Homo sapiens: one gene and its partner. The protein of the gene in region 1 interacts with the protein of each later gene in a pairwise test. Each region holds a gene or a part of one and is shown in the gene's direction. Other genes may lie near its edges.

Evidence for each region. Proteins that work in one complex are often made in the same cells at the same time.
Region 2: the proteins of ZNF792 (region 1) and ZNF639 interact in binary tests that used the Homo sapiens proteins (3 or more experiments, as listed by UniProt).

Annotation. Positions count from the first base shown.
Region 1 is NC_000019.10:34,955,854-34,958,541, reverse strand, and holds the end of ZNF792 (zinc finger protein 792), read left to right. Parts: coding exon 1-586; 3' UTR 587-2,188; downstream 2,189-2,688. UniProt on the Homo sapiens protein: May be involved in transcriptional regulation.
Region 2 is NC_000003.12:179,329,531-179,333,030, forward strand, and holds part of ZNF639 (zinc finger protein 639), read left to right. Parts: intron 1-87; coding exon 88-198; intron 199-3,458; coding exon 3,459-3,500. UniProt on the Homo sapiens protein: Binds DNA and may function as a transcriptional repressor.

The DNA of each region.
Region 1 (2,688 bases):
TCAACATCAGATAGTTCACACTGGCGAGCGGCCTCACGGGTGTGGTGAGTGTGGGAAAGCCTTCAGCCGAAGCTCTGACCTCATGAAACATCAGCGAGTTCACACTGGTGAGCGGCCTTATGAATGCAATGAATGTGGGAAGTTATTTAGCCAGAGCTCCAGCCTCAATAGCCATCGGAGACTTCACACTGGTGAACGGCCTTACCAGTGCAGTGAATGTGGGAAATTCTTTAACCAAAGCTCCAGCCTCAATAACCACCGGAGACTTCACACCGGCGAGCGGCCTTATGAGTGCAGCGAATGTGGGAAAACCTTCAGGCAGAGGTCCAATCTGAGGCAGCACCTGAAAGTTCACAAACCAGACAGGCCTTACGAATGCAGCGAATGTGGGAAAGCCTTCAACCAAAGGCCTACCCTCATTCGGCATCAGAAGATTCACATCAGAGAAAGGAGCATGGAGAATGTGCTCCTTCCCTGTTCACAGCACACACCAGAGATAAGCTCTGAGAACAGACCTTATCAGGGCGCTGTCAACTACAAGTTGAAACTTGTTCATCCAAGTACCCACCCTGGGGAGGTTCCCTAGGAATGCTAGCTGTGTTGGAAGCTTTCTGGAGACAAGTTACATTCTCTTACTGTAGAGTTTATCAGCGTTTTTTCACTGCTGGGGTTGTGATAGAAGCCATGTCAGCACCACACACTGCAGCTCTCCAAAGAGTGTGTCCACCACTCCACTGTGCTCAGGGAAGGCAGACCTCTCCTCTCTCTTTCCAATCCCTAAAGGGAATTAGGAGTAGTCTGAAGCCTTGGGAAGATGTCATTCCCGCCCTGTATGGCTGGTTTAGCCATGGACATGACCAGCTTTTGGCTGTGAAGACCTGAGCAGGGTTTTGCCAACAGCTTGTTCTAGAGAAGGTTTCCCTTTTTCTGGGACATTGTTGGTCTCATGTTATGCCTGTGAAGGATTTGTCCAGCCTTCATGTTACTCTACACAACAACTTATCTCCTGTGTATTGCCCTGGTTCATGTGATGATAATGGCCTTATGATAAAGCCGCCTTTAGTCTTCCATGTTCTGATCACTGTGTGGGGTGGTTCAAGAGCAGAGTTAAGATCTACCAAACTGAAGGGGTCTCCAGATTATCTTGGAGGGGACAGGAGGATGGCAGAGAAACAACTGTCAATCCAGATTTGACCTCATTTGCATTGCCACCAAGGCCTCCTAGGAAAAATTGTAGGAATTTATGGGTATAATATTGTGGTCTGAATGGCGTGAATTTTTATCCCGAGGAGGGGGCAGTTGTGACAACCTCCAGTGCATGTGGGAACAGCATGAATTGGGTCCCTTATTCCCAGGGGGTGCCCCATATTCCCCAATACTGTAAAGCAGATGCTGTTTAGCACCTGCCAAGGAGCCATATGCCCTGAAGTTCAGCATTAGGCAGGTATCTCTTAACTGTAAGACATACCAGGCCCAGCTGGGACCATAATTTGTACAGAAACACTGGATGTGATTAATAGGGAGTAGGCGAGATTATAGCAAACCAGCAGAAATGGAACTCTGCTAAATGTGCATCCGTGAATGCTCCCTTGAATGTGGCTGTGCAGGATTCAGGGTTTGCAGAAATTCTCAGGACCTCAGACCTCTGTCCTATGACTAATGTTACTGGCAGAGCAAATAATCTAAAGGTTTTGGTTTTGTGGATTACCATCTCCGTGCTGTGCATCTGAAGGCCAGTGCTGTGCTGGCAGGAAAATAGGGACTGAGAAAAAGCAGATCCTATACTATAGGGACTGTAGTATCTATGACGTAGCCAGCCATTCTTTGCTCCCAAGGCAAGAAGAAAGAGATGACAGAGTCAATATAGGGTTGCCAAATCGGATTTTCTAAAATGAGTAGGAAGTTGGATTTTTATGTGCAACAGTTTCTTTTAATGCTTTGTTGATATGTGATTGTCATGCAATAATTATTCATATTTGGTAAGTTTTGTACATATATTATGTACACTCAGGGAACCAATACCATAATCATGATAATGAACGTATCCATCACCTGCAAAGCTACCTCATGCCCCTTTACATTCCCTCCTTGCCTTCCCTAGGAAACCGTTGATTTACATTTTTTACTTTAGATTTGTTTGCCTTTTCTAGAATTAACACAATTGGAATCATAAAGTATTTATACTCTCTTTTGGTCTGGTTTCTTTCATGCAGCATAATTATCTTGAGAATCATCCATGCTGTGTGTATATATAGTTCATTCCTTTTACTACTGAGTAGTGCTATACTGGGTGAGTGCACCATAGTTTTTTATGGTTTATTTAAAAATGTTAAAAAAATCTGATGAAATATACTTAACATGAAATTTACTATCCTAACCATTTTTAGTGTATACTTCAATGGTATTAAGTAGATTCGTATTGTTATGTAACCATCACCACCATTCGTCTCCAGAACTCTTCAATCTTGCAAAACTGAAATTCTGTACCTGTCAAGCAATAACTTCCCATTTTCCCTTCCCCAGCCCCTCAAAACCACCATTCTACTTCCTGTCTGTATGAATTTGACCACTCTAGGTACCTCATATAAGTAGAATAATAAGTATTTGTCTTTTTGTAGCTAGCTTATTTCACACTTAGCATAATATTCTCAAGGTTCATCAATGTTGGAGCATATGTCAGAATTTCCT
Region 2 (3,500 bases), on another chromosome or scaffold:
GAACATTTGTATAAGTTAGATAACGGGAAGTTTCTCATTAAATATGTATGTTTACTGTACTTGAAATATTTTTCATTTTATGTTCAGATTCCTCTGGAATAAGCAGAATTGCAGATGGATTCAATGGAATTTTCTCTGATCATTGTTACAGTGTCTGTTCTATGAGACAGCCAGATTTAAAATATTTTGACAACAAAGGTATATCTAATATTTTCGAAAATATGTTTCTTTAAACTGCTTTTACATTTTTTATTCCTTACTTGAAAATGTGGGTAAAATGTGGATTGATGATTTCAAAACAGACAAGTCTTTGAAATTTGTTACAATGTAAGAAAACAAAGTTGTATTTTTTTAAGAAAGCAAGTAATTTTAACTATTCTTTTTTTTTTTTTTTTTTTTTGAGATGGAGTCTCGCTTTGTCGCCCAGGCTGGAGTGCAGCAGCGCGATCTTGGCTCACTGCAACCTCCGCCTCCCAGGTTCAAGCAATTCTCCTGCCTTAGCTTCCTGAGTAGCTGGGGTTACAGGTGTGCGCCACCACGCTCAACTAATTTTTGTACTTTTAGTAGAGACAGGGTTTCACCATGTTGGTCAGGCTGGTCTCAAATTCCTGACCTCATGATCCGCCCACCTTGGCCTCCAAAAGTGCTGGGATTACAGGCTTGAGCCACCGTGCCCGGCTGTAATTTTAACTTTTAACATTATTTCTGACATATAAATAAAAAAGTGCACTCTCCTAAGTCCATTTTTTGAAGGGGGTGGGGTTAGGGGGAGACAGTCTTCATTCTGTCACCCATGCAGCCATGTCTCACTCCATGGATTATGGCTGACTGCATTCTTGACCTCTTGAGCTAAAGCAATCCTCCCACTCAGCCTTTTGAGTAGCTGGGACTACAGGCATGCACCACGATGCCTGGCTAATTTTTAAAAATTTTTTTGTAAAGACAGGGTCTTGCTGTGTTGCCCAGGCTGGTCTTGAACTCCTGGCCTCAAGCAGTCCTCCCATGTTGGCCTCACAGAGTGCTGAGATTGCAGGTGTGAGCCACGGCTCTCAGCCCTAAATCCACTTTAGTTGGTTAGGAATTGGTGGCAATGCAGGAGTGACTCAGAGTTGGAGTATTTATGTTGAAAGGTTAAGAATAGTGTTAGACACAGTTCTACTCAGCTATACCACATAGTGTGGAAGAAAAGAACAGAGGGTGATTTGGTATTTTTCAATGTTGGATCTTCTATTGGTTCCTCTGTTCTACAGCATTGGTGAATGATAACAATTTACAACTTGCACTTAAGTTAGAGAGTTAGAGACATCGGTATGAATTCCTGTTTAGCTTACTATAGATTCAGATGGCTACATACAGAATGCTTGTAGATATGTGTGTGTATATATATGTGGTACTGTACACACACACTTTGCTGTGTTAGCTGAGAGGGGCTAAAAGAAATGACACCCAGAAGCAGTGAGCATGAGCACATTCAGTGCCCAGCTCTTGGTTTCTAATGCCTCCTTGGGAAAATGGCTGATTCTAGGTCTGGGGCAGGAAATATACAAGATGAACCTGGAGCATTTTGTAGTGCTGGAAAATAGGAAAGTACTTAAAAAAACCTAAACACACGCACTTGACAGGGGTATGCCAAAGGGGCACACGTCAACTTAAAGAGCTCCCAACAGCCAAAACTGAAAACTATTTGGGGACAAAAAATTATAACCCAGAGTATAAAATAAATATCCATGAATTCATGCTGTTATAAATTATTAAATAGAGGAGATGAGGCAAATCTGTGCAGAAAAATTCCAAATTATTAGACTTCATCTTAGCCAAAAGGCCAAGAAGCAGTAAAACTCCAAATTATTTATGTAGCTACTCCTCCCTCTAGGAGGTGGAATATAAGTCTGCACTCCTTAAGCATGGTCTGCACATAGTGACTTCTTACAAAAGGTAAAGTATGGAAAGTAAAAGCACAACTTTAGGCCAGGTGCGGTGGCTCACGCCTGTAATCCCAGCACTTTGGGAGGCTGAGGCAGGCAGATCACCTGAGGTCAGGAGTTTGAGACCAGCCTCAACATGGAGAGACCCTGTCTCTACTAAAAATACAAAATTAGCTGGGCGTGGTGGTGCGTGCCTGTAATCCCAGCTACTCGGGAGGCTGAGGCAGGAGAATTGCTTGAACCTGGGAGGCGGAGGTTGTGGTGAGCCGAGATCGCGCCATTGCACTGCAGCCTGGGCAACAAGAGCGAAACTCCATCTCAAAAAAAAAAAAAAAAAAAAAGACAACTTTATAGTGTTGAAACCTGATAGAGACTTAGCCAGGTGATCAAGATCAACATCAACAACCATAAATCATATTGATAGTATGTACCCTTGATAAGAAGTGATGAAAATGGCAATTTACCTCTGGTCTATCTCCCAGTAATCCATAATTCCAGCGTAATCATTTTAAAAAAAAGAAAGCAGACAAATTCCATTAGCAAGGCATCCTACAGAATACCTGATTAGTACTCCTCAAGGAGTGAGAAACTGCCACAGCCAACAATAGCATAGAGAGACATGGCACCTTAATGGAATGTGGTATCCTGGAACAGAAAAGGGACATTAGGTTAAAAACTAAGGGCATTTAGATGACTTTATTGACTTTTATTAATAAGTTACCAGTATTGGTCATTAATTGTAACAAATGTGCCACACTAATGTTAGATGTTAGTAGTGGAGAAACTGGGATACATGGGACCTCTCCATACTATCCTCTCAGATTTTTCTGTAATTCTAAAACTATTCTAAAAAATAAGGTCTATTTTAAGAAAACATGATGGATGGGCTGAGTGTGGTGGCTCACGCCTGTAATCCCAGGTCTTTGGGAGGCCAAGGTGGGAGGATCGCTTGAGGCCAGGAGTTCAAGGCCAGCCTGGACAACATAGCAAGACCCCATCTCAAAAAACAAGAATTACCCGGGCTTGGTGGTGCATGTCTGTAGTCCTATCTACTCAGGAGGCTGAGGCTGAAGGATCACTTGAGCCCAGGAGTTTGAGGCTGCAGTGAGTGAGCCATGATCATGCCAGTGTACTCCAGCCTTGGCAGACTGAGCAAAACTTGGTCCCTCGCAAAATGTTGAAGCCCAGTTTTCACTATTAACCTGTATTTCAGTTTCCCCATGCTAACTTTGAAACACTGGGGCTGGCCTGAGGGTATAAAGGCTTATTCAAACTCAGTAATTTAAACTTAAAATCCTAAGGAACTTCAAAAAGTGTAATCTAGTCCAAATGGGGCATCAATTCTAAAGCATTTGCTTGTTTGAGCAGATTTTCTGTGTCTGAGGTATATAGATAACTTATCTTTTTATGACTAAATCCAAGTCCTTAGTTCCTGTTGGAATTCAAAATCATATTTAAAAATTGATGCTTTGTTCTATAATTAATGCTTTGATTGTATAAATAATAAGTATTCTTCCAAATCCCTTTTTACAGATGATGATTCTGATACCGAGACGTCAAATGACTTGCCAAAAT